Linked DNA regions of Homo sapiens: region 2 is linked to region 1. Evidence: fine-mapped expression QTL. A gene starts in region 1. The other region holds a variant in brackets. All regions are shown on one strand. Distances are from middle to middle.

Region 1 (15,115 bases):
ATGGGACCGTCATCTCCCAGCCGTGGCCCTGGCCGGCCCCCCCAAAGGGCAGGGTGTGGAATGACCCAGGGCAATGCTGGGCTCCTCCGATGACGAAGCCGGAAGCTCAAAGGGTCTCTCTGAGGACTGGGGGCCTTACCCCAAGTTTCTTCATGTCCAGGGATCAGAACTGAGAGCTGCCAGCTCCTGAGGCAGCCCTGCCCTCCACAGGTGCCAACCACCACCCAGGAGACGGGATGGTAGGAACAGTAAGATGGTGGTCAGGAGGCAGCCACCCTGGCCTCCTCCAGTCTGGGCACCACCCAGCTCCAAGAGCCAGGCTGGGTGGCCAGGGCACTGCCACTGTCCCATGGCACAGGCTACCTTCAGGGACACTGGGGATGAGGCAGCCCCTGGACTATAGATGCAGCCGGGGTCCCTTTAACTCCCATCCCTACCCCGTGCCCTTCTCCCTACCCAGAAGCTCCTGTCCTTGCAAAGGACAGCACCCCCGCCCGCCCTCCCTGGGCAGCCAGCAGTTCTCACTGCCCTCTCCGGGGTGCTCAGTGCCTGTGGCTGACGGGGAGGACAGGTTTTGGGGGCACTGCCCTGTGCTCCCCATGCCCACCCTACCATGGGCCCAGCATGCTCAGGAGGACCCCGTCACACGACCTTCCTTCCAGGGCCCCAGAGCATGCGGAGCCCCTCCTCCCCTCTGCGGCCCCTTCCTGCTCCCTCTTCCACCCTCCTCCCTCCCTCCTGTCACAGTGTTGGGTTATGGGGATAAAGGACAGAGGCCTGGGGCACTGAGGGAGGGACAGAGACACCCACGCAGCGGGGGAGAGGACAGACGTCCGGAACTGGGTAGAGATGGGCCGTGGGTGGGATTTGCTGGGGACAGAGACCTATGCAGTGGAGGAGAGGACAGACGTCCGGAACTGGGTAGAGATGGGCCGTGGGTGGGATCTGCTGGGGACACAGACCCACGCAGCAGGGGAGAGGACAGACGTCCGGAACTGGGTAGAGACGGGCCTGCCGTGGGTGGGATCTGCTGGGGACACAGACCCACGCAGCAGGGGAGAGGACAGACGTCCGGAACTGGGTAGAGATGGGCCGTGGGTGGGATCTGCTGGGGACACAGACCCACGCAGCAGGGGAGAGGACAGACGTCCGGAACTGGGTAGAGACGGGCCTGCCGTGGGTGGGATCTGCTGGGGACACAGACCCACGCAGCAGGGGAGAGGACAGACGTCCGGAACTGGGTAGAGACGGGCCTGCCGTGGGTGGGATCTGCTGGGGACACAGACCCACGCAGCAGGGGAGAGGACAGACGTCCGGAACTGGGTAGAGATGGGCCGTGGGTGGGATTTGCTGGGGACAGAGACCTATGCAGTGGAGGAGAGGACAGACGTCCGGAACTGGGTAGAGATGGGCCTGCCGTGGGTGCGATCTGCTGGGGACACAGACCCACGCAGCAGGGGAGAGGACAGACGTCCGGAACTGGGTAGAGATGGGCCGTGGGTGGGATCTGCTGGGGACACAGACCCACGCAGCAGGGGAGAGGACAGACGTCCGGAACTGGGTAGAGACGGGCCTGCCGTGGGTGGGATCTGCTGGGGACACAGACCCACGCAGCAGGGAAGAGGACAGACGTCCGGAACTGGGTAGAGATGGGCCATGGGTGGGATTTGCTGGGGACACAGACCCACGCAGCGGGGGAGAGGACAGATGTCTGGAACTGGGTAGAGATGGGCCTGCCATGGGTGGGATCTGCTGGGGAGGGGAGCGTTCGCATGGTGTGGGGGGCTGGACAGCCACTCTCTCCGGGACCACAGCTTTCTGGGCTGGGGCAGGACAAGGCCACTCATGCCCCACTTGCCCTTCTGAGGTTCAGCCAAATGAGGCTCCCACCCCCATGACTCACAAGGCAGCTGGGAGCTCCGGCACTACCCGTGGGGATGGTCAGGACTCTAGGGGCCTTGGGGGGTGTGGGCCACTCCACCGTCAGCCCCAGCCCCATCCCCAGCCACAGCCTGTCTTTGGAGGGTGCTGACTGGGGGCCATTGCAGCTTATGGATCCCTGTGAAAGCCTGAACATCGGGAGCAGCCTGGTGACCTCTGCTCTCTGGTTCCCCCAACAGTGCTGTCCCACGTCCCCACCCCTGTGGCCAGCTCCGCCCACTCAGCCTCAGCCTTGCTGGGGCCTGGCCCGACCTCAGGAGTCCCTGCTGGCCTGGCCACCCTTGTGCCTTCGCCTCAGCCATCGGGGAGGCTCGGGTGGTCTCAGGGCCAACGCCAGGTGAGACCTCAGGTGAGCTGCCCCCCACCTTCCCAGTGCTCAGGGCCAGGGAAAGGGTGGTGGGCATGGACCACACTTGCAGCCCCCCCCTGGGGCATGCCTGGCCGCTGGCCTCCCTGATCCCTGCCCGGGTTGGGGCTCCAAGGGCAGGAAGTCAAGGCGTCCACGCTTGGTGACAGTGCTGGGCCGGCCTGGAGGGGGCAGGCATGTCCAGCATGGAGACGGAAGCAGGGAAGAGCCCATCGTCCCCTCCCAGCTCTGCCCTGAACACCCTCCAGCAATCGGAGGAGCCCGCTGCCCTTCCCCCACCCGCCTCCACTGGCATCCCTGGAGCCACACTGCCCCCTGCCGGGGCTGGCGGGTGTGATGGGCCACCAGGCCACCAGCCCTGACCCCGCCAGCCCTGAGCCCGCCAGTCCTGAGCCCACCCGAGCTCTTACGGCTGCACCTTGAGCCAGTGCCTGGTTGGCTCCTCTGTCACTGTGGGGAGATGGGACGCAAAACCAGTGTCAGGCTGGCTGGGCAGGACAGGACCCCACTTCCCCAGGTCAGGGACAGGCCTGAGGGAGCCCCAGACAGGCCCGCCACCCCCTGACCCCTCTGTGCCCAACTCCCCGTAGAGCCAGGACTGACCGTCAGGCTCCAGGGACCTGCTGTCCCCAGGTCCTCAGGAGGGCCAGCACCACCCCGCCCCCACCAGCAGCCCCTCCTGTCTAACATGTCCGTCTGTCTGTCTGTCTGTCTGTCCGTGTGTTTTGAATGCCCAAGATGTTTTAAACAGACTTCTCGAATATTCTTTTCATGTGTGTTGCAGGGGGGGTCAGGGGCTTCTGAACAAAAACGGCACCCCCATACCTGATGGGGCTCCTCTGAGCCCACCTGGACTGACCCCCTGTGGCCGCCAGGGGCAGCTGGTGGCCTGCCTGAATGTGGGGGCAGTGTCACCCCTGAGCCCAGAGAGCCGGAGCACAGCAGGGTCCAGGATGGCCCCAGCTACAGACACTGCCTGGCTTCCTCCACACCCCGAGATCCAGCTGCGTCTCCTCTGTCCCGGGGAAACTTACGGGAAACTTATGGGCGGAAGTCCCTCTGCAGGGCCCACTACCCAGAGCCAGCCACATGCACTCAGGCCAGGGCTCAGGGGCCGTGGGGGCTGGTGGCCCCAGCCCTTCTGGATCCACTCCCCACCCCTCACTCACTCCGTGGGGACCTTCATCTGCCTAGATGGGCTGGTCTGTGCTCTGACGGCCCCAGGACTGGGTGTCGGCCTCACCCCAGCGCCCTGGCGGCCTCCCGGCCAGAGTAGAATGTTGGAAGGGCATGGCCCATGGCCGACGCCAGGCTCCCGGCCAGGGCCCACCTGTGTTTGTCTCCTCACCCCGGCCTCCTCCAGCCTCAGGCCCTGCCTGTCAGACAGGGGCACTTGCCCAGGGGCTCCTCAGGGAGCAGTTGGTACCTGCAGAGCAAGCCCCCAGAGCCCCTGCCACAGGCACCCCAGCCTCAGGTCAGGTCTGGAATGGACACAGCCCCCAGACCAAGACCAGGGCCTCCTCACCCCGGGGTCCCCTCCCTTGGTGTCGGGTGTCACCCAAACTCCCTGGACGTCACCCTTCTGCCCTCCACGCCCCACACCCTGGGTAGGAGCCGCCTTCACAGCTGCTAACCCCTGCCCTCCAGCCCCCACTGCCTCTTCGGTAACGGGGCTGTGACTGGCCTAAGCCCTGGGCCTCCACAGGGCCCCTGTCCAGCCCACCTTGCTCAACCGCAGCGTTCCGCATCACGCCTGCCCCTTAGTGGTTGGGGTGTGCATGTATATTTATACACTGTAATTACATAAATACAATTTAATAATCAAGGGTCAAGTGCCGTTACTGCACTGTGCAATTACAGAATCACTCCAGAGCAGACACCATGGCATCTCAGCTGAAAACCGGCACCCGCCTGCATCTATCGTGAGAAAGTTGGAAATTCCTTAGCCCAGCCTCGACCACTGCCTGCGGTGTTGGGAGGAGTGGCCAAGGGCTGGGGGTGGGGGGACCTCTGGGACATCCAAGACTGCAAGGCTCCTGGGGGGTCCGGGACCCTGTTTGTTGTCCCCCCGTTCCTCATACTGGGGAGAGGAAATAGGATGGGAACTGAGGCTGTGGACCAGGGAGCCCCCTCTACATCTTGGCCGGCCCACCCCCACCTCATGCCCATGAGGTGCGTCCCCCGAGGTGGAGAGTTGAGGTGGGCAAGGCAGAGGGCAGGAGTGATGGGGGTGAGTCCCAAAGGCTCAGGACTGCAGACTCTGGAAAAAGGAGGAGAAGGCCCAGAGTGGGGTCCTAGCTGGAGGCTTGGGGTGCTGAGGGAGGGTCCGGCGTCTCCAGGTCCACCAGGAAAGGGAAGGGCTCTTCTAGGGCTGATGGTCCTGCAGCCGAAAATGTACCCCTGCCCCCACTGCACAGGACCTCCAGACTCAGGGTACCCAGCCCTTCCCTGCCACCTACCTCTGACACAAGGAGAAACTGAGGCACGGGGGAGAACCTCCAGCCCAAGGCTCCGAGCTGGGACTGGACCCAGGCTCCTGCCTCCTGACCTTCCTGCTGCCCTGGGAGCATGTGGAGCGGGGTCCCTCGCGGGGGCACCTGCCCCTGGGGGATAGCCCGCCAGCCAGGGAGCACACCCTCCCGCAGTGGTTAAGCCGGCTGCTTCCCTGGCCCCGCCCTGCATTTGGGGCTCACCCAGGACCTGGCCCAGCTTAGCCTTTCCCTTAGAGACCCCCACATCCCATGGAGGAGGGATTTGGCCTCCGTTTCTCCCCGAGGTGGGTGGGAGGCAGGTGGCTGAAGCGAGGTGGGTGCAGGGTGGAAGCGGAGAGGAGCTGGGGTTGGCAGACCGCAGCCTCCCCAGACCTCTTTCTGGGGGGAGGGCGAGCACTTCTACCTCACCCCTGCACTAGTCCCGTGAGGATGAAAACCAAAAGCACTCAGAGGGCTTCTCCACCCCTATTTTGAGGTCACTGACCACAGAGGCAGGATGGTGGTCCCCAACAGGCTACACCCCAGCCCCAGAGGCCTCCCAGTCTGGAGATGGACTCCCTGCCCTCTCTCATCTTGGAGCAGTGAGCGCTAGGGACAGTCCTGGCCTGAGCCTCCCGGGCAGCCTGGCCTCCTTTCAAGCAGGCCAAGTGCACAGATGCTGCCTGCACCTGCACAGCCACCCGCCGTCGACAGGAGAGCAGAGGTACCGGGTCTGCTCCCATCACAGAGAGGAACGGGCTCCCCGGCCCGGCCCTGGGCTGGTCGGCAACCCCCACTCCCCACCCTGCCTGCTCAAAAGAAAGGATCCTCCTGCCTCCAGCCCCCTCCACCCCCTCTCCAGGACCTTCCTGACCGTGCGCTGGGCCTGTGCAGGTGTTGAGCCACACCCACACCATCCCAGGGGGCGGGGTCTCGAAGGGGAGAACAGGTGCCACAGTCAACAGGAGGGAGGGCTTCTGGCCGAGGTGGCAAGGAGGCTCCAGGAGGCGGCAGCGTTGACCTTGGGTGTTGAGGGATGATGAGAAGGAGTTCTGTAGGAAGGAAGGTGCTCCAGGCAGGGGGCCTCGGGGAACAAGGGGATGCTGGAGGAGGTGCGTGGACTGGGGGAATTGGGGGTGTCCTACGAGCCACGCTGGTATCAGAGGCGTGTGAACCAGAGCAGTTCCATACTGAATAAGAGCTGGGCAAAATGAGGTCGCGAGGAGGTGCGTGGAAGGCGGGCCTAGCGTTCAGTGGGATGCGGGGAGGCGCAGGAGACGCAGCCAGAGAGGCGAGGGGCCCAAGGAAGTGCTCAAGAGGTGTCCCCCGGCAGGGACTACAATGCAGATTCCCTGGAGCAGGGGCGAGCCGGGCCCAAGGAGCAGGAAATGAAGAAGCCAGGAATCCCAGCTGGTCCCTGACCCGGACGCACCCACCCTGCCTTCCCCACAGCCTGGCCTCTGGCTCTGCTCCCAACGCAGCAAGCCGGGGTATCTCCGACCTAGCCCTGGCCCTGCCCGCCGGAACCCCGCAAAAGCTATCACTCAGCCCTCGGCCCCGCCCCGGCCCCACCCCGGCCCCACCCCGCACTCTCACAAGGTGTCACTCAGCCCTCGGCCCCGCCCCGCCCGCCCCATCCTCCTCTGGCTCCGCCCCACCAGCCTCGTGCGGTCACCGCCCCGCCGGCGCACCTGCGCTGTCACTCAGCCCTCGGCCCCGGCCCCGCCCCGCCTGCCCCACTCGCACACGGGCTATCACTCAGCCTGCGCCCCGCCCTAGCTCGCCAGAGGCTCCGCCCCACCCGCCTGCCAACACGCTGTCACTCAGCCTTAGCCCTGCCCAGGCCGGCCCTCGGCCCGTCAGAGGCCTCCTTCGTGCTGTCACTCAGCCCTTGCCCCGCCCCCTCCCCGCCCCCCTCACACGTGCTGTCTCTGTCTCTGGCCCTGGCCCGCCCCGCGCACTTGCGCTGTCACTCAGCCTGGACGCGCTTCTTCGGGTCGCGGGTGCACTCCGGCCCGGCTCCCGCCTCGGCCCCGATGGACGCCGCGTTCCTCCTCGTCCTCGGGCTGTTGGCCCAGGTAAGGCATCGGCACCTGCGGGGGTCCCCGCTGCCTCCCTCGACGCTGCGGGACAGTGTCTTCAACTGCAGCCGCACAGGTCTCCCCCAGAACCACTGGCCCTGGTCGCCTTTGGGGGCCTGTGAGCGGAGTGGCTCCGGGTGGGTCCCTGGGCTGGGGGCAGCACCCCAGGGGTTGTGGGGAGTGAGTGTAACCAAACACTCCATCTGGTGGAATCACCCCCAGGACTGCAGAGTGCTGCTGGGGTCAGGGACCCCAGGCAGGGGCCACCCAGGTAGCCGTGCCCTCTCTTTGGAGGAACCGCTGCCGGGGTCTGGGGGTTGCCAGTCTTGAGTGGAGCAGAGAGAGGGGGGAGCGGCAGGAGTGCCCCTCTCTGGGGGGCTGGGGGCCAGGTTTCTATAGGGACTCCCTGCGGTGGGCACAGGACCCCTGGCTAGTCTTGGGTTTTGTCCAAACCCCCCACCCCAAGTTCCTGGCCAGCAGGGGTGGCTGCAGGCCCTGCCCCCAGGAACTCACCCTCACGGCTACTTCTCGATTGGGAGGGCCCAGCCCGAGCCAGGTCGCAACACACGGCCTTGCAGAGTGGCGTGTGGCAGCCCTGGGGGCTCTGTTCCTGGGCTTCACCTGGGACCCTGCCGCAGCTGCCTGGGGTGATCAGGCCTGGGGGCCCAGCCCCCAGAGGCTGCTGGACTCTGCCCCTAAAAATCTTGTCTGGACTGCTGGCACCGTGGTCTCTCCAACGTGGGAGCAAGCCAGAGTGGAAGGAAGCCCAGGCCTCAGCCCCCCACACCCGACATGGGTACTGCCTAGCTGGAGCCACGTCTCCTCACACCCTAGGGGGACCTAGACATGGAGGATGTGGCCTCAGTGGCTTCAGCCCCCAGGGACTGGGCTGGGCTGGGGCATGGCCGGCTGTGGTTGGGACGTCACTGGGTACAAGAGGGCAGCCTCTCTCTGGCCAATTCGAGAGAGAATGCACATAAAGGGCTTAGCGGTGCTCACAGTATTCATTGCTCTTGTGGTCCTGGGGTGGTCAGGGAGTGCTGGACACAGTGAGTAAGGGAAGCCACTCCTTTCCCAGCCCCCACTGAAGGGGCTTCCTGAGTCCCCTCATTCCCACAGGCCTCCCAGCTCCAGCTGGCTCCAATTTCAGCCCCTGGCAGCTGACCAGGCGCCTGGCCAGCCAGACCCTCCAGCAGCTGCCCCTGAGGGCACCACGGCTCCTGCCACCCCCGACTCCCCCATCTGGAGACAGTGGTGGGGGGAGACAGTGGCTCAGCATGCGTGCTCACCCCCCGGCCCTCCACCCCTCAGCCCTCTGCCGGGGAGCGCAGGCTGGGGGGCTCCATGCCTCCAGGGCCCTTCCCCACCTGCTCTGGGGACAGGGTTTCTTCCCTGGCACCCCAACCCAGGGCATGGTGGTGGGGAGGCTGGCGCCTGTGAAAACATTCCTCCAGACCTCTTCCTTTGGATTTGGGAGTGTCTGCCTTTCAAAAGGCCCCAGGGGGCTCTGTGGCAGGTGGGGAGGCAGGCAGGACCTCTCCCTCCTCAGAAGCCTTCCCTCTCACTGTCCCTTCTTTTCTCGCCCAGGGCTGGGGGACAATAACCCCCTCCCCCGACAGCTGGAGGCTGGGGGAGGTGGTGGAGGTGGGGGCCAGATGGCAAGGGGACTATCGCCAAGGCTCAAATTCACTCCACTGTGAGGCAAAATATGTCAGTGTCAGGACCCTGCCTGCCCCTCCCCCAGCAGCTCAGCTTTCAGGACTGTGAGCTCTCCTGGGCAGCCTTGGGGTCCTGGGCCGCCTCCTGGTGAGCCCCCAGGCAGGCAGCGTGGGCCCATCAGGGCCTTCTACAAGTGAGGGGTTGCTCCCCTGCTCGGGCCACCTCTGATTGCTGAGCTCACTCAGCCCCACCCGGAGGGTGTCTTCAGAACTGGCCCCTCTCAGCCCTGCTGCACCTACACCATCCCTAGTTGCTGGTTCTACACCTGGGACCCCACCCCAGCTGGGAGGCGGCTGAGGTCTGGGGCAGCACACTTGACTCACAGAGAACCCCAGCCTGCTGGGAAGGTCCCCACTTCTGCATCTGGGTTTTGGGAGCCCCTTGGTCTCTGGGAGACAGTCAGCAGCACCCTGGGGGCCAGGCAGGGGCTCTTAGCTCGGGTGACTGTGACCAAGGCCAAGAAGGGAAGTGGCTCCCAGGCCACTGTTCTTCCCACAGTGGAAGGACAGCCCCAGACACCGTGCTTTGGAGGGGACAGCTGCCTCCATGCCTCTTCTTCCACATCCCTTCTCTGAAGCCCGCAGCAGCTAGAGAGGGTGGGGCCCAGGGAAGATGCTCCAGCCGCTCTGGGCCAGGCCAACAGCTGGGGCCATTCCTGGCATGCCTGGCCATCCAGGAACGGGGTGGCCCCAGATTCCAGCCTGGGGGAGGGGTTGAAGCCTGAGAAGCTTGAGGGGCCTTCGCACTCTCTTCCCAGGCAAACCCACCCACACGCCACCAAGCGTGTTCCTAGAATCTCGTAGCACCCTTCCTTGGAAAACCGGGGGAGCAGGAGTGCAAGGTCGGCCCCAGAACCGCTCCTCGTTCCCGTCTCGCAGTGGTGTTCGTAAACCCCATTCCCACCTCGCAGTGGTGTTTGTAGACTGCAGCAAGCGCCCAGTGTGTGCAGAGCTTTCTTACACAGCAGCCCCTTGGGGTTGAGTGTCAGGCTAGGAGCAGACCTCAAGAGAGGCGTTAAGTCCCAGGAGCTTGGCTGCAGGGCGGTGGCCCCAGACGTCTCAAGGGCTTCGAGGTGGTTCCCTCCAGGCTCTTGGCTAAGGGTCCAGTCGAGGATGAGCTTGGGGGTGTCATTGGGGACCCCCTGTGGGGAAGCAGGTCACTAATGTCCATGGGTCTTGCCTGGCTTGGGTGGGGGACAGAGAGGAGTGGACGAGTGTCCACAAAATCCACCTCCCAGGGTGCTTGCGTCCCCTACCCCAGGTGCAGGGCTGTGGGCTGGCTGCGTTGATGTGGCTTTGTCCTGGGCACCGGATGTCCCGATCTCCCCAGGACGGCTCCCAGGCCCTCCCTCCACTGGCCACGTCTTCTGGGACGGGGATGGGGTGGGAGGACAAAGAGCCAGCTTTGAGAACGCCCCCGAGAGCCGGAAGTGGGCCGTGGCCAGCCTGCTCACCCACACCCACATTGGCCGTGATCTGGGCAAGTGAGCCCTGCCAAGGCTCTGTGGCTGCTGTGACCTGGTGAACTCAGGCTGTGGACAGGCCTGGGCCCAGGACTCCCAGCCTCTGGCTTGACCACACCCGGCCCAGCGTGACTGGAGGGTCTCCGGTGGAGGCAGCTGGAGGTTGGGTGAACAGGGCTGGCCCAGGTTTGGTGGCAGCTGGGCAGGGAGGGGATGGAAACGTCTGCCCGGGTGGGGGTGGCCCCTCCACCTCAGCCGTGTGGGGTTCCTAGAGCCTGGGGTCTCCCTGCCCCATGCCCATGCCTAGCCCAAGGCCGGTGTGGCTCTGTGGCTGGATTTCCTTCAGAGCATGCGGTTCAGAGCCTAATCTGGGTCTCAGACCCCACGTGACTCCTGGCTCTGTCTGTGTGGCTTTGAGCAAATGCCTCAGGCTCTCTGAACCTCACTGCCCAGAGCTGGGAGGTGAAGGGACCACCACAGGCTCCCGGGGGGTTGGGAGGACCAAAGGGGAGGGGGAGAGGGAGGTGCAAAGCTGCCCAGCCACGGCCGGAAACAGACCCTGTGCCCACCGAGGCTGATGAAGGCCCCATGCTGGGCAGGCAGGTTTCCACTTGGCAGGAGCTGCCCTGCCCTGGAAGTGGCTTGTGCTCTGTGGGTGCTGGCAGGCTCCGAGGCCAGGGCCGCCATCTGTCAGCTGGCAGAGAGCTTCCCCGGCAGGGTCCCCTGCCTGGGAGCCTGAGGAACCCCCACCCCATCCTCTCCCTGCTTCCTGCCAAAGCGTTTGCTACTCTCTGGACTCCCAGGAGGCCATGGAGGAGGGGACTCAGGTCCTGCTGGCCGAGGACCAAGAACCCCAGGGAAGGTGGCCATGGTTTGGAGGCTGCTGCCGCTGCCTGTGGGGACCTCTGTGTGCTGGGCCAGCCCTGGGCACAGGACACAGTCAGAGCGAGAGGCCCCAGTGCCCCATCTCAGGGTGGGCAGATGGGCAGCCTGGGCCTTGCTCGTCCACACAGGGTAAGCGGCCGGTGGTGGAGGACAGAGGCCAAGCCTAATGGGGGTTCGGCCTGACAGGCTTCCTGGCCATGCCAACATCTCCTTCCCGGCCCCCGCCCACTCAGACTTACCAGCCCCCAACCGCTGCCTCCTCTCAAGGCCACATGCCCCCACGTCCCGGCCCCTGCCTAGACTGAAGTCTCGGCAAAGCCAGCAGGAGCAGGCGGCACTGGAGGGTGAGGCATTGGCACGGGGCTGAGGAGAGCGGGCAGCCTCGGAGCCAGCAGGGGCGTGGTGGTCAGAGTAGCTGTCGACACCTGTGGTTTTGCAGGGGGAGGGGCGGCCCAGCTGGCCCAGCTCTGACCCCCCGGTTCTCGGTGCTCCATTTCATGGGGCCCCACCCTGCCTGGAGCGGGTGCCCCCTTCCAGCGGGGAGCTGGGTGAGGCCTCCCACGCAGGGTCCCGCTCACCAGGGCCGACTCGGTGCTCCCTCCGCTCGCACAATGTGGGGAGCTGTTCTAGGTGTTGGTGTGGCGTGGCCGGCACACCTCTGTAGTAGGCACAGGACTTGGTGCCGGCTGGGGAGTCCCGTGAGCCTCCCTAGACCCCAGCCCACCTGCTGTCCAGATGAAGGAGCTCAGGAGCAGGCCGCGAAGACGGTGATGTGGAGATGGGGAAGGAGCTCAGGAGCAGGCCGCGAAGATGGTGATATTAAGATGGGGGCCCTGTCTGAAAGGGGAGCTGAGGAGTTTGTGTGTGGTGGGTGATGTTTGGGGCCTGCTCTGCTCCCAGACTCCCCATCGCCTGCCTGGGACCCCCAGCACCTCCCACCCGTCCCCCTGCCCGACATGGCAGCCCAGCAGCCTGAGGGCTTGTCCTGGGTGGGGGTGCCCCAGAGAGCATGGCCCGGGGTAGGGGGTCTCTGTCCCCTCCCAGCCGGGTGGTGCAGGAGGCTGCCCCGTCTCTGCGTTAGGGTCTGTTCCTTGGGGAGCTGCTGCCACCCCCACCACAACCCTGGCCACAGGGTCCTGGAAGCCTCCCACCCTGCCCACCCCAACTCAGCATCTTCCTCTGTAGCCCCTGTCACTGGGACGATGCAGACGCCACACCCTCACTACACGTGGTACCGGTGGGGGGCGGGAAGGGCCTCGGGTCTCTCACCCCCACAGCCCTGCAGTGGGGGGCTGGGAAGGTCGGGGTACCCTCGCCAAGGCTGATTGGGGCTGTGAGCGCTGGGCATGTGGGGCTGGGTGCTGGCCACACATGGGGCCTTAACCACAATGAGGTGAAAGGGGAACACAGCTCCTCACTTTTGCCAGGCACATTTCAAGGGCTCAGCAGCCCCATGTGGCCTGTGGGTCTTGGATGGTGAATATCTAGAACATTCTGGCAGCTAGGAGAGCGCTGTTGGGTGGGAGGGGGCCTCCAGGGAGGAGGGTCACCCGAGAGAAAGGCCGGGAGCCTGGCGACCCCCAGGACTAGGGAGGCACAGACAGCTCCTAGCCAGGCCCGGGGCACAGGGGACGGGGAGAGGGCACAGGGGATGGGAGAGGGCAGCCCTGTTTCCTCCTCCCTCATCTCCCTCTCCCCTGCCTCTCCCCCAGCCCTGGCCCCTGCTGCCCTCACCAAGTTCAGGCAGACTCTGTGCCCCAACGAGCTGCACCAGGCATCAGCCTGACCGGGGAGCTCGAGGGTGACCCCCATGTCCGTGCCGAGCCGAGTGGGGTCAGCCCAGAGCCATGTCCTGTCAGCTGCGGCAGCTTCCACCAGGCTGTGCTTTAGGGTCAGGGGTCTTTCAGGAAGAGCCATGCAGCCCACCCAGAAACACTGACTCCCCAGGCTCGGGGGTCCCAAGCACAGGTGTCCTGGGGATCCCAGGACAGGCAGGACCCGCCGTCTCTAAGCTTCCCTTTGACCAAGGTGGGGCCGGGCACCCCAGGAGGGAGGCCCAAGGCCCAGGCTAGGAGCTGGGTACGGTGACCGCATTTTTAAAACCAGAAAATTCAGGATGTGCTTTTGGGGTCACTACGAGTGCCCCTCTCCACCTGGCTCTTGGACTTGGGTCCCTTCTCTAGGCCTCAGTTTCCCCATCTGAGGGGTGGGTGTGGGGCTATCTGTGGTCACAAAAGTTGCTGACCGTCAGGACCTCGGGAGAATTTGGGGGCAGCCACCTCCACTTTGGGGTCTTTACCGGCCTGAGGGTCGTCCCGGCCCTGGAGTAGGGTGGGGTGCACAGCATCTCCCTCTGCACCCCACACTCTGCCCAGGCCCCATCCCCGAGCACCAGGGCTTCCCGTGTGCATTACAAACAGTGCGTCCCAGCCCCTGATGTGGGAGAGGAGGAGATGGGCACACCAGGGTCCCAGCAGCTGAAGTATTGGGGTGAAGAGATGAAGATTTTACCGAGGTACCCTGTTCTGGGAGAAGAAGAGTGAGGCTGGGGGTGGGGCTGCCCCTCTGTCCCCAGCCATGTCCCTCTTGGCTGTGCAGCCACAACAAGCCCCACCCCACCCAGCCCCACCGAGGCAGCCCTGGCCCCTGCCCAGTCAGTCTCAGGAACCCGCACCACCAGCGTTGGCTGCCCAGCCCTGACGTGTTGGGACCTGACAGACCAGCAGCAGCTGCAGGCCGGTTCAGCCACACAGCACAGTCCAGTTGGGGGCCGCTGTATGAATTACGGATACATCTCCAGCTGCTCTTGATGGACTGGAGCTGAACTCTCGCATCCCGGGGTTCAGTTCCCACAAAGCAGCCTGGAGAGGTGGAGGGGGACGGGCACTTTCCTGCAGGCACCTCCCCTGCCGCTCCCCCGGACCCTCCACAGCCAGCCCACTGTGCCCACAGGCACCGCCACTGGCTTCTTGGGGTCATTCCGTGTCAGGACCCCACGCTCTCCCCAGCCCTGGCTGGCCCAGGGGCTTTCCGTGTGCACCGCTACCCTGGCACCTGGGGCGAGGCTGTGTCCCCGCCGGGTGAATCTCAGGTGTCCCTCCCAGCCAGAGGCCTGGAACCCTAGCGCTACCTCCCAGTGGCCCATGCACTCGCCAGGGGCTGCAGACAGCCTGGCTGCTGAGTGGGCCCAGTAGGAGACTCGGGGGCAGCTGGATGGGGGCTTTGAGGGCCAGTACTTGGGGTGTGGCCACCAAGGCCCTGGCTCAGTCCGACGGGGGCGGGGCTCACGTGCCTTTGCCCTTGTGCTACGCAGCCCCGTGTGTGGAAGCCGCCTTGCGCCAATGGGCACCGACCCGTGGGCTGAGGGAAACACTGCGCCCCGTGGCCTCCTCACCACCCACAGCTCCCAGCTGCACGCTGCCGCCCAGGGCTCCAGGAGACGGTACTGTGGGACGCATCTGTCTTTGTTGCAGAGCCTCTGCCTGTCTTTGGGGGTTCCTGGATGGAGGAGGCCCACCACCCTGTACCCCTGGCGCCGGGCGCCTGCCCTGAGCCGCGTGCGGAGGGCCTGGGTCATCCCCCCGATCAGCGTATCCGAGAACCACAAGCGTCTCCCCTACCCCCTGGTTCAGGTGAGCAGGTGGAGGGGGCAGGAGGGGAGAAAGGGGTAGGCTGGTCCCCAGTGGGCCTCCCTCATTCTCTAAAGGTCTCCTGGGAGCCAGCGGGGCCCCATTTCAGGACAGAGCTGAGGCAGGACTCGCCCACCTTGCCAGGGCTCTGGGCTTCCAACCTGGGTCTAGAGCAGGGCTCAAACCCTCCCCATTGCCCCAGGCCACAGGGGAGTCCAGAGCTGCTCCCACCCCACATGCGCCTCGGGTGGACATACTCCACGTTAGGCTGCACGCTCGGGCGTGATTTTTGTGTGCGTGTTCGCCGACGCTGAGTAGATGGAGGTGAAGGTGAACTGCCTTGCGTGGGCCTCAGCTTCACATACCCAAAATCGCCCCAGAGACCAGGGCCCTGAGGACACCAGGAGCTGAGCCTGAAATGAGGCTGCAAGACGGGGCACCCTTGGGGCCACAGGCTGAGCTGTCCCCAGCCCAGCACAGCTCCTCATTGGGTACCAGGATCCGTCCTCCAGTCCTAGGAGACTTAGACCTGCCCTGCTGTCAGCTGGGGAGGGGCCTGA
Region 2 (15,115 bases), 23 kb after region 1:
TGGCCAGGTTCACCATCCTGGAAGGCGACCCCGATGGGCAGTTCACCATCCGCACGGACCCCAAGACCAACGAGGGTGTTCTGTCCATTGTGAAGGTGAGCGGCCCCCGGCTGGCACACAGATGCCGGCAGACGCAGATGCCGACACACACAGATGCCCACACACAGATGCCGGCACACACAGATGCCCACACACAGATGCCGGCACACACACATGCCGGCACACACAGATGCCCACACACAGATGCCGGCACACACACATGCCGGCACACACAGATGCCCACACACAGATGCCGGCACACACAGATGCCGGCACACACAGATGCCCACACACAGATGCCGGCACACACAGATGCCCACACACAGATGCCGGCACACACACATGCCGGCACACACAGATGCCCACACACAGATGCCCACGCACAGATGCCGGCACACACAGATGCCCATGCACAGATGCCGGCACACACAGATGCCCACACACAGATGCCGGCACACACAGATGCCCACGCACAGATGGCGGCACACACAGATGCCGGCACACACAGATGCCGGCACACACAGATGCCCACACACAGATGCCCACACACAGATGCCCACGCACAGGTGCCCACACACATGCTGGCACACAGATGCCCACGCACAGGTGCCCACACACAGATGCCCACGCACAGGTGCCCACACACAGATGCCAGCACACACAGATGCCCACACACACATGCCCACACACAGGTGCCCACACACAGATGCCCACACTGTCCACACACCGATGCTGGCACACATAGATGCCCACACACAGACACCCACACACAGATGCCCACACACAGGTGCCCACACACAGATGTTGGCACACACAGGTGCCCACACACAGATGCCGGCACACACAGATGCCCACACACAGATGCCCACACACAGATGCCCACGCACAGGTGCCCACACAAAGATGCCGGCACACACAGATGCCCACACACAGATGCCCACACACAGATGCCGGCACACACAGATGCCCATACACAGATGCCCACGCACAGGTGCCCACACACAGATGCTGGCACACACAGATGCCCACACACATGCCCACACACAGATGCCGGCACACACAGATGCCCACACACAGATGCCGGCACACACACATGCCGGCACACACAGATGCCCACACACAGATGCCGGCACACACAGATGCTGGCGCACACAGATGCCCACACACAGATGCCCACACACAGATGCCCATGCTGGGGTTTGAGCCCCTTCCTGGCAGGTTCACATCCTCTGACCAGCTGGGACCTTGTGTTCGTCCTTGGGTGAGAGAGAGTGGGGGAGGGCATGGAGCCCCCCAGCCTGAGGACTGGGTCCCAGGCCACGCTACCCATGGGGCTTGAGGGCCAGAGGCAGGGGACACCCTCCACCACTTTGCTCTGTCCAGCCTTCCTCCTTTCATATGGAATCCATGTACAAAATCACAGCTGCACACCTGTGTCAGTCCTGGTTCTACCAGAGAAAGAGGCCATAGGAGACACATGCACAGATATGTCCACACGTGTAGATGTGGGTGTATTTAGATACTGACACAGTAAGAGGTTTACTGCAAGAAATTGGCTCATGCGGTGCTGGGGTCTGGCTGGGCAGGTCTAACGTGCAGACCACAGGCTGGAGCCGACGCAGCAGTTTAGAGGCAGAGAAAATGCAGTTTTGCTCTCAAAGCCTTCACCTGAGTGGATAAAGCCAACCCACATCACCCAGGACGATCTCCTTTATTTAAAATCAAGTGACTGCAGGGGCTGGCGCCATCCCCCAACGGCCCTCGCTGAAATACCCGCGGAGTATGTGCTTGAACCCTGGGCTGCTCCCCAACCACCACCACACACAACCAGCATTTTAATAATATTCTTTGTGCCTTCTTGTCCTGCATAATTTGTTTTTTCAAGGTTAAAAAGGGGCAGAAGGAAAGTACAGGTGCTCTGGACAGACCCAAGGAGTGGCTCCCCCATGGCACCTGCCCTCGGGTGCCCACACTTGCGTTGGGCGGATGACGGGCTGTGCTTCCTTCCCTCAGGCCCTGGACTATGAGAGCTGTGAACACTACGAACTCAAAGTGTCGGTGCAGAATGAGGCCCCGCTGCAGGCGGCTGCCCTTAGGGCTGAGCGGGGCCAGGCCAAGGTCCGCGTGCATGTGCAGGACACCAACGAGCCCCCCGTGTTCCAGGAGAACCCACTTCGGACCAGCCTAGCAGAGGGGGCACCCCCAGGCACTCTGGTGGCCACCTTCTCTGCCCGGGACCCTGACACAGAGCAGCTGCAGAGGCTCAGGTGGGGCTCCTGAGGCCCTGGGAGAGGTAGAGGAGGCTAACGGCCCCATTCCTGCTTCGGGTGCCCCTGATCCCTGGGCTCTGAGGGTCAGAGGGTGTAGGGGCCATTTGCTGTGTGGGTTCCTGAAGGTCTGGAGGGTCTCGAGTCCCGAGCATGCCCGTGTGTGCATGTTGGGGTGACCTCACCCCCTAGGGCAGGCCCAACTCCAGCCTGTGCACGCCAGTCTGTCCCTGCCAGCCGTGTCCATCCCAGGAGGCCCTTGCTCCCAAGGGACTGGCCGTTCGCATCTCATTTCACTCCAAGCCTGGCCCTGTGTATCCCTGTCTGTGTCCACGGGGCCCGGGAAGGGCCAGCACCAACTGAGGCTTAACTAGGTTGCCACACAATTGTCTCAGCGCCCTGGACAGCTCGCCTGCCCTCCCTGAGCCTCAGTTTCCTCACCTCACAGAAGGTGCTGGTGACTGCAGCTCCCATCATATTCACATGGGTTGTGTGTACATGTGTATGTGCATATGTGTGTGCACATGTGTGGTACATGCGTGTGGTGTATAGGTGTGTGGGGGGTGGTATGTGCAAGGTGGGGGGGAGTGTCTATGTGTATATATGTGCATGTGTGTGTGCTGTGCATGCCCATGTATGTGTATGTGGTGTGTGCATGCATGTGGCATGTAAGGCTGTGTGTGCGTGTGTATATGTTGTGTGCATGTGTGCATGCATGTGGTATGTATGTGTGTGCCTGTGTGTGTGCAGTGCATGTCACGCACCCATACCTGACCACACCTGTGGGGCCCTGGGGTAAACTCAGATCCCACTCTTCCCCTCCCCTGCATCAGCTACTCCAAGGACTACGACCCGGAAGACTGGCTGCAAGTGGACGCAGCCACTGGCCGGATCCAGACCCAGCACGTGCTCAGCCCGGCGTCCCCCTTCCTCAAGGGCGGCTGGTACAGAGCCATCGTCCTGGCCCAGGATGACGGTGAGCGGCGCCGCCGGCTTGGGGCTCCCTGACCTGGCCTTGTCCCGGCTGAGCACCCCTGCCAGTGTCGGAGGGCTCTGCCCATGTCGCCCGGGGGCTCAGAGCTGCGCACCCGCTCTGAGCCGACTGGTGGGGCAGGCTGGGGTGTTGGGGTCACTAAGCCGCGGCCTCCTCGCCTGCAGCCTCCCAGCCCCGCACCGCCACCGGCACCCTGTCCATCGAGATCCTGGAGGTGAACGACCATGCACCTGTGCTGGCCCCGCCGCCGCCGGGCAGCCTGTGCAGCGAGCCACACCAAGGCCCAGGCCTCCTCCTGGGCGCCACGGATGAGGACCTGCCCCCCCACGGGGCCCCCTTCCACTTCCAGCTGAGCCCCAGGCTCCCAGAGCTCGGCCGGAACTGGAGCCTCAGCCAGGTCAACGGTGCGCTCCCCTCACCGCCGCGCTCCCCCCATCCCCACGCTCCCCCCACCCCCACATTCCGGCCTCGGACGGGGGCAGGAGGGTGAGGGGCATGCAAACCCGTGGTCCTGCAACAGGTCCCCTCCCGCCACCCCCCCCACCACTGCATCCTCCCGTGGGGCAGGGTTACTCATTGTGCCCAGAGGACGGTGGGGGTGGGGGGGACCCAGGCCCAGGATCTCGGGATCCCCACCCTGTCTCGGCGCGAGGAGGGCAGGCGAAGTGGGGGCGGCCTCGGGAGGCCCTCGCTCACCACAGGCGCCCTCCGCAGTGAGCCACGCGCGCCTGCGGCCGCGACACCAGGTCCCCGAAGGCCTGCACCGCCTCAGCCTGCTGCTCCGGGACTCGGGGCAGCCGCCCCAGCAGCGCGAGCAGCCTCTGAACGTGACCGTGTGCCGCTGCGGCAAGGACGGCGTCTGCCTGCCGGGGGCCGCAGCGCTGCTGGCGGGGGGCACAGGCCTCAGCCTGGGCGCACTGGTCATCGTGCTGGCCAGCGCCCTCCTGCTGCTGGGTGAGTGAGCGCCCCGCCTCCACCTGGACCCTCGGACCCTCGGACCCTCCTCCCCAGGCCGTCCCCTGCTAACCAGCCACGCCGCTTCCTCCCCAGCTCCGCCTCCTCCCTAACCCCGCCCCCTCATTACCAGCCACGCCGCTTCCTCCCCAGCTCCGCCTCCTCCCTAACCCCGCCCCGTCATTACCAGCCACGCCGCTTCCTCCCCAGCTCCGCCTCCTCCCTAACCCCGCCCCCTCATTACCAGCCACGCCGCTTCCTCCCCAGCTCCGCCTCCTCCCTAACCCCGCCCCCTCATTACCAGCCTCGCCGCTTCCTCCCCAGCTCCGCCTCCTCCCTAACCCCGCCCCCTCATTACCAGCCTCGCCGCTTCCTCCCCAGCTCCTCCTCCTCCCTAACCCCGCCCCTCAGTACCAGCCACGCCGCTTCCTCCCCAGCTCCTCCTCCTCCGTAACCCCGCCCCCTCAGTACCAGCCACGCCCCTTCCTCCCCAGTTCCACCTCCTCCGCAACACCACCCACTCATTACCAGCCACGCCGCTTCCACCCAACCCGCCCCCTGCTCGCCAACCCCGCCCCCTCATTACTAGCCACGCCCCTTCCTCCCCAGCTCCGCCTCCTCCCTAACCCCGCCCCCTCATTACCAGCCACGCCCCTTCTCCACTGCCGCCTCCTCCCCAACACCACCCACTCATTACCAGCCACGCCGCTTCCACCCAACCCGCCCCCTGCTCGCAAACCCCGCCCCCTCGTTGCCAGCCACGCCTCTTCCCCAAGCCGGCCTCTCCTTACCAGCCAAGCTCCCTCCTCCACAACCCGGCCCCCTCCTCCCTAACCTCGCGGCTTCCTCCCCAACCCCGGCTCCTCCATGCCAGACACGCCCTTTCCCCAACTGCCGCCCCCTCAACCCCACCCCTGCTTACCAGCCTTGCCCCGCCCCGCCCCCTCCTCCCACCTCCTTCGCAGCCCGGCCCCCTGAAGTCGCGCCCTGTGCCTGGCCCCAGCCTGCGTCCCCTCATTCCCCAGTGCTGGTCCTGCTCGTGGCACTCCGGGCGCGGTTCTGGAAGCAGTCTCGGGGCAAGGGGCTGCTGCACGGCCCCCAGGACGACCTTCGAGACAATGTCCTCAACTACGATGAGCAAGGAGGCGGGGAGGAGGACCAGGTGAGGGGGCAGGTGTGGGTGGGGAGGGGTCCCCAAGGAACCCAGGTCGCGGGCCTTCTTACAACAAGCTGGCCAGGAGCCTGTACCTGAGACCTCCACCAGGGCCACCCGAGGGATGCCTGGCTCTGTTCCACCTCCTCGCCCACAGGACGCCTACGACATCAGCCAGCTGCGTCACCCGACAGCGCTGAGCCTGCCTCTGGGACCGCCGCCACTTCGCAGAGATGCCCCGCAGGGCCGCCTGCACCCCCAGCCACCCCGAGTGCTGCCCACCAGCCCCCTGGACATCGCCGACTTCATCAATGATGTAGGTGCTCCTGGGGACACCCCAGTACACACAGGCACGCACAGGTGCACACACACATGCACATGTACACACCTGCACATGCATGCAAGAACCGGCGCCTGCATGCACTTATGGGCCGTCCCAGAGCACCGCAGAGGAAGATGGTGTGCGGGCGGGAGTGTGGAAGCCCCGCTGCCACCGTCCAAACTGGGCCCTCAGCCTCCACCCGCGACGCGGGTCTTTGCACAGATGGAGTGGCGATGGCCACAGACCCATCCACTGCCCCGTGTCCACCATGGAGGGGGTGGGGGAGCCCCGGGAGCATCCCCTGGGCTTCGGTGGCTGTCAGCGGAATCAGGGCCTCCATAGAAGACCCTCTGGACACAGCGTTAATGATTCCCTGCCATCCACAGGATGAATGTGCACACGGGGAATCTGGGGTGTGGGGCGCACAGGGAACCCTCCTCTGTGCCTGTCTGCACCTGTAGCACCTGGCTCAGAGAAAGCCCCCAGCCAAGGTGTACACCCCCGGTTAGGAGCGTGTGTCCCCACGAGCTGAGAGGACAGACATGCAGACAGAGCCTCCGAAAGGCAGACGGGCCGTTCTG[C/T]GGATGGGGGTGTCCAGGAGGCTCGGGTTCTGCCTTGAGTGGACAAGGGCCACGGGGAGGAAGAGACCAGGGTGAGGGGGAGCAACCCCTTCCCACCTTGCTGGGGCAGGGCAGAGCCCCGGGGGACGGGCTGGCCGCTGGCCTAATACTGAGGAAGGGGGTAGTCCGTGGCACCCTCTTCACAACCCTGCTGCTGTGCCCTCAGGACGCTTTGCCTCCCCTCAGACCTCGCCCCCGGACGTGGGCAGCTTCCCCTTCCTGAGCCCGTGCCTTGAGCTGACTTTGCCCTGGGCTGTGGCCACGGCGGTGGGGCACCCGCTGGCCCCTCCATGTGTCTTGAGCTCTCCGGGCCTCTTTATAGGGCTTGGAGGCTGCAGATAGTGACCCCAGTGTGCCGCCTTACGACACAGCCCTCATCTATGACTACGAGGGTGACGGCTCGGTGGCGGGGACGCTGAGCTCCATCCTGTCCAGCCAGGGCGATGAGGACCAGGACTACGACTACCTCAGAGACTGGGGGCCCCGCTTCGCCCGGCTGGCAGACATGTATGGGCACCCGTGCGGGTTGGAGTACGGGGCCAGATGGGACCACCAGGCCAGGGAGGGTCTTTCTCCTGGGGCACTGCTACCCAGACACAGAGGCCGGACAGCCTGACCCTGGGGCGCAACTGGACATGCCACTCCCCGGCCTCGTGGCAGTGATGGCCCCTGCAGAGGCAGCCTGAGGTCACCGGGCCCGACCCCCCTGGGCCTGGGGCAGCCTCCTTCCTGTAGGCGAGGGCCCAAGTCTGGGGGCAGAACCTGAGTGTGGATGGGGCGGCCAGGAAGAGGCCCCTTCCTGCCGGGGTGGGAAGAGTTTCTCTCCATCGGCCCCATGCGGGTCACCTCCCTAGTCCCACCTTTGCCTCCTACCAGTGAACCTCATCTTTGTATGAAAGACAGCAACCTCCTGGGTAAATCTGAATGAAAAACGTGCTAGTCTCTTTCATGCAGGACGGGCGCCCACTGCCACACTGACCATGAGGGGGATGGGGCCAGTGAGGCCTGGCCTGGCAGGGACCTGAGGGCCAGGCCCCCATACCACCCTGCTTGGCTGGGGCAGGAGGCGGCCGGGGGCTGCCACTACCTGGACAGGGGCTATGGAGCAGCCGCTGACACCCTGGCTCCTTGCTGGTGAGCCCAGAGGTGGGGAGCAGGCACAGGTGAGACCCTTCCAGGCCCCAGGTGTGGCCTGAGGGAAGAACCAGGGAGGACGCCAAGTTCCACAGAAGCCTTTATCCTCCACACCTACTGGGTGTGGCTGGGGGGAGACCCAGGGCCTCCCAGTGCCTGGGGCCTGGCTGGAGACACCTTCACGCTGTCCCCACGGCTCCACCTGCACTGAGACACGGGCTTCTGAGAGGAATGTGTCTGCCCTGGACCAGACGTCTGGGGTACTCAGCCATGCCCCAGGCCTTGACTTTGGTCCCATCCTGGCTCCCAGGGCCACCAGGCAGGACTAGTGCTGCTCGGGGGTGTGGCCGGCCCAGTAGGAGTTGGAGGGCGGCAGCAGAGGCAGGTGGTCCTGGCGGGGGCGGCCCCGCAGGAGTGGGGAGCGGCGCAGGCGGTCGGCGTCCTGCAGTGACTGGGGCAGCCCCCGGCTTCGGCTCTCAGGCAGCAGCAGGACACACAGCAGGGCAAGGACAGCAAGGGAGGCGAAGACGACTTGTTGCAGGAAGAAGCCCTGCCGGCCGTGCAGGGTGTCCAGGGGGCCGGCTGCCTGGCCCAGGAACCCGGCCCCCAGCACCAGGCCCAGCCCGGCCCCCCTGTGGGACAGAGTGTGTTGGGGGCAGCCAGCCTCCTGGCCCAGGAACCCGGCCCCCAGCACCAGGCCCAGCCCGGCCCCCCTGTGGGACAGAGTGTGTTGGGGGCAGCCAGCCTCCTGGCCCAGGAACCCGGCCCCCAGCACCAGGCCCAGGCCGGCCCCTCTGTGGGAGAGAGTGCGTTGGGGGCAGCTGGTGGGGCAACAGATTGGGGGACACACATGTGACTCCAGAGTGAGCAGGGGGAAGGCCCGGCCTCCGCACAGCCTAAGGTTTGCTGGCTGAGGATAATTTGAAAAATTGTTTTGGAAAAACCTCCTTCCTCTCCTGGAGCACTTTTTGCTCTGTTCAAGACTGGAAAGTGGCCGGGCACAGTGGCTCATGCCTGTAATCCCAGCACTTTGGGAGGCCAAGGCAGGCGGATCATGAGGTCAGGAGATCGAGACCATCCTGGCTATCATGGTGAAACCCTGTCTTTACTAAAAATACAAAAATTAGTTGTGCGTGGTGGTGGGTGCCTGTAATCCCAGCTACTCAGGAGGCTGAGGCAGGAGAATCGCTTGAACCAGAGAGTTGGAGGCTGCAGTGAGCTGAGATCACACCACTGCACTCCAGCCTGGTGACAGAGCGAGACTCCATCTCAAAAAAAAAAAAAAAGAAGAAGAAGAAGATCGAAAAGTGATGCTTTCCCCGAGAATTCTGCCATTTCTGGAGGCCTCCTCATCTCTGCCCCCACCCCGCACTCCTGGCTTCAGGCCTGCGTGGCCTTCCCTCCCCTTCCCAGTTCCTGAGCCGTCTGCCCAGAGCCTTCTGTGAGCAGTGGCCCCCACCATCCAGGAGCAGGGCAGTGCTTTACCCCGAGTCCTTACTGGATGGAGGAATCACAGGCAGGAACCTGGGTGGGGTATGGGGACAGGGCCTCCTGTCCACCTGGCCCCTCCTCCCCATGAGAGGCCCTGGACCCTGCTGTGTGGCCGGGCAACCCTGAAGCTCACCTGATCACCGTGGGGAAGACCTCGGCCGCGAAGAGGCTGCTGAGTGCGGACACAGCCCGGGAGGCCAGGAGCCCCAGGACAGAGAGGAACAGCACAGTCCAGCCTGGCAGATCTGGGGACAAAGAACAGGGGTTCCCAGGCTCTCTCCCCAGGCCTTCCACCCTGGCCACTCAGGGCCCTTCCCCAGAGAACCACACCACTGTCTGGGGACCCACTTTCCAAGCCTCCTTTTCCAGCCCCCCTGAGAAACCTGGAGGGGGAACCTGTCCTCTGCAGCCTGATTCCAGCCTGGCTTGGATTCTAAGGATGTTAGAATCCTGACCCCGAGCCGCAGCCACACCGACCACCTCCACTCGGGCCCACGCTCAGCTACTGCTGTGCTGTCCACTGTCTTTGCAATTTCGAGAACCGTCCTAAAATCTCGAATACGTTGGAAGCAAGGCCTGCATTTCATTTTGCACCTAGCTCCACACACCATGTGGCTGGCCCTGAGTATATGGGCCCTCCCACACCAGTCCATGGCCGGCCTCGGCCACCTGGAACTCTGGGCAGAGCTTTTACCCAGCCCGGCCTCTTGACCTCTCATGCCTGTGCTGCACTCTGTGGCTGGGGCAGGTGTTTTAGGCTCAGACAGTTTCCTTACTTTAGGCCAGTCACAAAAGATCCTTTTGGGCCTTCCACAAGGATCAGAGGAAAACAAACAGCAGCTGGCCTTGGGCTGCCACCCCAGGCTGCTCCCCTGTCGGCACTATGGCCCCCTGGTGTGGCAGACCGTCGGCCCAAACACAATGGCTCCTGTATGGCCTGCGGGGCCCCAAGCTCACACTGGGCCCCAGCGAGGAGCAGCAGGGATGCCAGGCCTGTGACCATGGTGCCCAGCAGCAGCACGGGGCGGCGTCCACAGCAATCTGCCGTCAGGAGCAGGAAGACCAAGGCTGCCGCCTCCAGGCCGGCCTCCAGGAAGTAGGGCAGGTAGAAGGTCGGCACCTGAGGTGCCAGGCTGCGGCGGAAGCTAGCTCTGATGCCTCCACCAACCAGCCTGGGAGAGAGAGCAAATCTATGGGCCCAGCCAGAGCCGGGGACTCTGGGGACCATATGCCCACCCCGGGGGATGGTGCAGGACCCCAGCCCTTCCTCGACTCACGAGCTGAAGCCCAAGATAAGCCCGTTTCTCCAGGTGACTCGGGTACGCAGAAGCCCCAGTGGGGAGTGGTACCGGGGCTGGGGGCTCCGTGCAGACAGCATGGTCAGCTCTGTAGCCGCAGAGATGTGAGGGGAGGGGGGTGAGGAGCTGTGCCTCTCCGAAGCCCTCCTCCAGTACCTGAATCTCCCTCCTCCCTGGTAGGCGCCTGACCTGTAGCCAGGGAGTTCTCCTCCAAGGAACTGTCCCCGGGGCCCACGCCACTGGCTTCTGCAAAGCGCCACAGGATCTTCCTGGCTCGAGCTACCTGACCTGTGGCCAGCAGCCAGCAGGGAGACTCGGGGAACAGGGCCGGGAACCTGCAGCGTTGGTGAGGATGCCCACGGCTCCCTCCACCTCCTCCTGGAAGGAGAGGCAAAGGCCAGGGCCCCCACCCCACCCCCAGGCTCAGGGGCAGGACATCACTGTAGTTCTCTGTGACCCTGTAACCCATGCGTTTACCTGGCATGGGATACGTCGGTGCAGAGGGAAGCTACATAGTCAGCCCCGATGAGGGCTGCTGGCCCAGCTCCCACCACACTTACCCCCAAAAGAGCAGCAAGAGTCCACTCATCAGGGCACCCAGCCCCTGCAGAAGACGCCAGTCCTGCACAAGCGCAGCCAGGCCGGGCAGCAGCAGGGTGCCCACCACCGAGAAAAGGCCAGCCCCCATGGAGAAGGCCAGGCGGTGGGGAGGGTCACACAACTCCAGGCCTGGGCAGACACAGACAGGTTGAAGTGGAGGCCTCGGGGAGGACTGGAACAGTTCCATTGGGAACTGCGGGGACCTATTGGTGACCTGCCCAGGAGCGGGATGCCCAAGGGACTCACTGCTCACTGTCCCTGCAGCTCGGGGCCCTCGGCAAGGGAGCCTCAGAGGCCTGCGGGCCACCCACTGCCCCTCCCCCAGTGACAGCAGCCCCCAGGGTACTCACGAGCCAGATACAGGGCGAGGAGGGCCCCTGCCAATGTGCCCCCGTGGAGTAGGCGCAGGACCAGCAGGGTAGGGAAGCTGGCAGCCAGGGCCTCACTGGCCCCCAGGCCTGTGGTCAGCACCAGGGAGGCCACAAAAACTGCCCGGCGTCCAAACCTGGTGGGCAGCGGGGGACATGCTTGGACAGGGTCAGGATAACCCAGGGTCCAACCTTCATCCTGGCAGCACCAGGTCTAGCTGAACCCTGAGAGTGGGCGGAGGGGAGGGCTGCTGGGCAGCAGGAAAAGGGAAGGGGCCTCACCGGTCACAGCCTGCTCCCAGGATGACACAGCCCAGCAGCCAGCCCAGGAGGTGGCTCACCTGCTCCAGCGGGACCTTCCAGCCGTCTCCACACACAAGGTTCCACTATGGGGAACAGCAGCCACGTGGAGGCCAGCTCAGGACCCTCCCCTGGGGACAGGTGCAGGGAGTCCCAGAATGGCTACTGGAAGGGGCCCTCCATGTCCTGCTCAATCCCTCCGTGGAGAGAAGGGGAAACTGAGGCATGAGAGGGCAAGGGGCTTGGTCCAGGTCACACAGCAGCCTCTCTGGTCTCCGGCAGCCCCTGCACAGGGGTCGGGGGGATCTGCCCACCCTAAGTTTTCTGCTTGTCCCTAGATAGGGCCTCCCCCACCTCCGCACACCATTGCTCTTCCCCCACGGCCAGCTCTTGTCCGACCCGTTTCCACCTCCTATTCCGAGGGACCCCGGGGACACCCAGGGCCTTGGTGGCGTCATAGACACAGCCCCCACCCCAGCCGGCCAAGGGTCATAGCCATGACACAGGCCTAAGAAATGAACCCCAGCACCTGCGCTGGTACCCACGCCCTCCCTGCCCTGCCCATTTCAAGAGGGACTCGGGCAGCGGCTGGAGAGCTGTGCTCAGCGGCATTTCCCGGTGAGGCCCTTGACCCTTGACCTCAGCTCTGCGCCTCCCCCCACCCCTTCCGGTTCCTGGGTCTTCTTGGCAAGCTTAATCTACTGCTGGGGGCCGTGCTATGCCCGAGATTTTACTTTCAAACCTGACGTTTTGGGAAAGCTGATGGGGCATTCCTGGATCCAGGCACCAAACAGGAGGAGGGCAGGTGGGAGGTGGGAGGGAGCAGGGTGGAGAGAGAAGCCCGGCGGGTTCCAGGGCCCCAGGCAGCCCTTGTGAAGATGTGGCAACCCCGTTCCAGTTTCCACACTGGGGCCAGTCCTCCCAGGATGGGGGATGGGGGCCTCGGGGTAAAGGCTGCCTCAGGGGTGTGCAGGTCTCAGCCCCAGCGCGGAAAGGCATGAAAGGGGCCTGGAGGTCCCTGCCGCCCGCCTCCCCATCTCTTCTCACGCAGATCGTCAAGGTTTCCCTTCAGGCAATGCAGTCTCTAGCCCAGCCTCTGCGCACCTCACTGATGGGAAGCCCACCTTCCCCAGTCTGTGCTGACCACGTCAGTCCCTCCAAGCAGAGACTCTGCCTTGGAAAGCCAGCCCAAAGCCACGGTCTGCTGAAGACGCTGGTGGTCCTGAAGCAAATTCCAGGCCCTGCTCCCCCACCGGCGCCTTCGGCTCCAATCCTCCAGCGCCCCAGGCCGCCCCGCGCCTGGCAGCTCCCAGGCCCAGATTCAGCCCCCGCCCGGCCCCTCTCCGCGGGTCCGGCCCGTGCGCGCCCGTCTGCGGCACCGTCGGGCCGGCGGCCGCCCCGGAGCAGGAAGCCCAGGAGGACGGCCGGGGGGCCCGGGTCAGAGGCGCCAGGTAGGATGGAGAAAGGACACCCAGGGCCTCGGCGGGCTGGGGGCGGGGAGGGCTGCGGGGCAGCAGGGACGGGGGCGCACCTGGGTGACCGGGCTTTGCAGGAGGCCGGCGCCGGGCAGCGCGTAGAGCCAGCCGCGTGTGCAGGGCCGGGTGCCGTTGCGTGCGGGCGCGGGGCGCGGGCCCGGGGCGGGTGCAGGGCGCGGGATCGGGGTAGCGCAGGAGCAGGCAGGGGCTCGCGGCTCGCGTGGGCCCCAGGCGCGGGATGGCGGCGTCCAGCAGCGCGGGTCCGCGCAGGGCGCGCAGCGCTGGGGGCAACAGCGTGGGGTCCGGTCGGCAGTGGGGCGCGGGCTGCGCGGTAAGCAGCTCCTCGGAGCTCAGCACCAGCCCCAGCACTATGCAGGGTACCCACGAGGCGGAGGCCAGCAGGCGCCGGGCCCGGCCAAAGCCGCCCGCAGCTCTCAGCACCCGCGCCTCCTGCTCCATCGGTCGCAGGCTGCGCTCGGGACGGGGCGGGGCCTGGACCAGGGCGGGCTCCTGGGGCGGGGCTTTGGGGCGAGGCATTAAGGGGCGGAGCCTGAGTCCAGTGGAGGCGGGGTGTGGGGGCGGGCGGTGTGAGGGCGGGGCCTAAGGCGTAAAGGGGCGGGGCCCGATCTGGGGCATAGGGCGGGGAGGTTGAGGGGCGGGAAGGTTGAGAGGCGGGGCTTGCGGCCGAACCGCGAGGGGGCGGGGCCCCGTGAGGGCGGCACGTGGGGGCCGGGGGCGTGGCAGGGGCGTGGCCGGGAGCGCTCAGGTGCCCTCGCGGCGCAGGTGCACTCAGGTTGCCCGGGGGCGCGCGGGCTCCGGCCGGCGTCCCGGGGTGGTCCCCGCGTGGGGCCGGGGGCGTCCGCGCGGGCGGGGCGAGGTCGGGGAGGGCAGCCGCCCGCCCTCCTCGGCGCTGGGAGCTTTCGGCTGGTACTGCGGGAGGAGCTCCCGGGTGACCCGCGGGTTCTGAAACCGCCGCTCGGGAGCTCGGGGCCTGCGCTGCGTCTACGGGGCGAGCGAGGGAGAACTGACGCCTTTCGCCCGGATCCTTCTCCCCTTCCGAGAACCAGGTAGGTCGCGTTTATTTTCAAGTCCGACTGTTTTCGCGGTAACATTTGTGGGAAACATCACGGTGGATCCTGTGGGTCGCTGAGTTTTCTGACTCCCGGTTTGTCTTATTTTGCTTTGTCAGTGGGCTCTGCGCTCGCGTTAACAATTCGAATGGGCACGTTTCTGCGTTTCAGAACGCTGTTCGCTTCCTCACACTTAGATTGAGGTGGAACTCACGTCACATAAACCGGGTCGCAAGGCTCAGCTCAGCGGGGCCCCCCCAACAGTGTTGCGGGACCAGCACCTTCTCGGGCTCCGGAACAGCTTCTACCCGAGCAGAGCCCGCCCGTCGGCGGCCGCTCTCCGCGCCCCTCCAGGGCCCTGCAGCCCCCGCCCTGCTCCGCGGACCAGCCTGTTCTGACCTCCGTTCAATGGAGCCCTACGTGCTGTGGCCTTTTGTGTTCCGGCGTCTTTCGCTTAGAATCGCGTCTTCAAGGTTCGTCCCCGGTGGAGCGGGGATCAGACCCGCGTTCCTTTTCAGGAGTGAATAATATTCCGTGGATGGAGCCCACACGTTTCTCTCTTCCTCTGTTGATGGACAGTGGGTTGTTTCCACTTTTTGCCTTTTGCGTCCAGTGACACGATGAACATTTTCGTACAAGTATTTGGGTGCCTGTTTCCATTTATCTTTGGTGTATACCTAGGCATGAATAGCTGGGCCTTAGGGTGTGAACTGTTTGTGAAACCGCAGAACGGTTTTCCGCAGCGGCGGTTCGATTTCACCACCAGCAATACAGAAGGGTGCTCGTTCCCCGACATCCTTGCCAACACCCATGTTCCGGTTTGTTTCAGTTATTTTATTGTGATAAAGCACAACAAAATGTATCATCTTAACCATTTTAAGTGTGCAGTTCAGTGGTATCAAATACATTCACACTATGGTGCAGCCGTCACCCCCATCCAGCTCCTTAACTCTGTTCACCTTGTAAAACAGAAACTCGATGCCCGTTACATAGTAACTCCCCATAGCCCCTCCTCCTCGCCCCAGGGAAC

What was found.
Region 2: its variant is fine-mapped to the expression of CDH15 in cerebellar hemisphere (GTEx, PIP above 0.99). The same link has a PIP of 0.9 or more in cerebellum.

The regions. Positions count from the first base shown.
Region 1 is chr16:89,165,017-89,180,131 of GRCh38, forward strand. CDH15 (cadherin 15) reads left to right here and starts at 6,732. Exons shown (of 14, transcript NM_004933.3): 1 at 6,732-6,857; 2 at 14,400-14,558. The coding sequence starts at 6,816. LINC02138 (long intergenic non-protein coding RNA 2138) reads left to right here and starts at 1,367. Exons shown (of 3, transcript NR_046200.1): 1 at 1,367-1,483; 2 at 2,121-2,290; 3 at 3,093-4,131. RefSeq lists enhancers at 1,755-2,603, 2,604-3,451, 9,949-10,448 and a silencer at 6,168-6,807.
Region 2 is chr16:89,188,191-89,203,305 of GRCh38, forward strand. It overlaps CDH15 (cadherin 15), which reads left to right. Exons shown (of 14, transcript NM_004933.3): 7 at 1-95; 8 at 2,053-2,306; 9 at 3,140-3,282; 10 at 3,465-3,704; 11 at 4,015-4,254; 12 at 5,280-5,416; 13 at 5,565-5,723; 14 at 6,672-7,302. The coding sequence ends at 6,965. It overlaps SLC22A31 (solute carrier family 22 member 31), which reads right to left and starts at 12,347. Exons shown (of 9, transcript NM_001384763.1): 1 at 12,288-12,347; 2 at 11,523-11,626; 3 at 11,223-11,377; 4 at 10,833-11,001; 5 at 10,462-10,607; 6 at 10,252-10,360; 7 at 9,932-10,146; 8 at 9,108-9,219; 9 at 7,571-8,115. The coding sequence starts at 12,311. The coding sequence ends at 7,809. RefSeq lists silencers at 4,101-4,430, 13,414-13,503 and enhancers at 5,583-6,248, 10,627-11,250, 12,499-13,121. The variant C/T (reference allele first, on the strand shown) is at 6,311.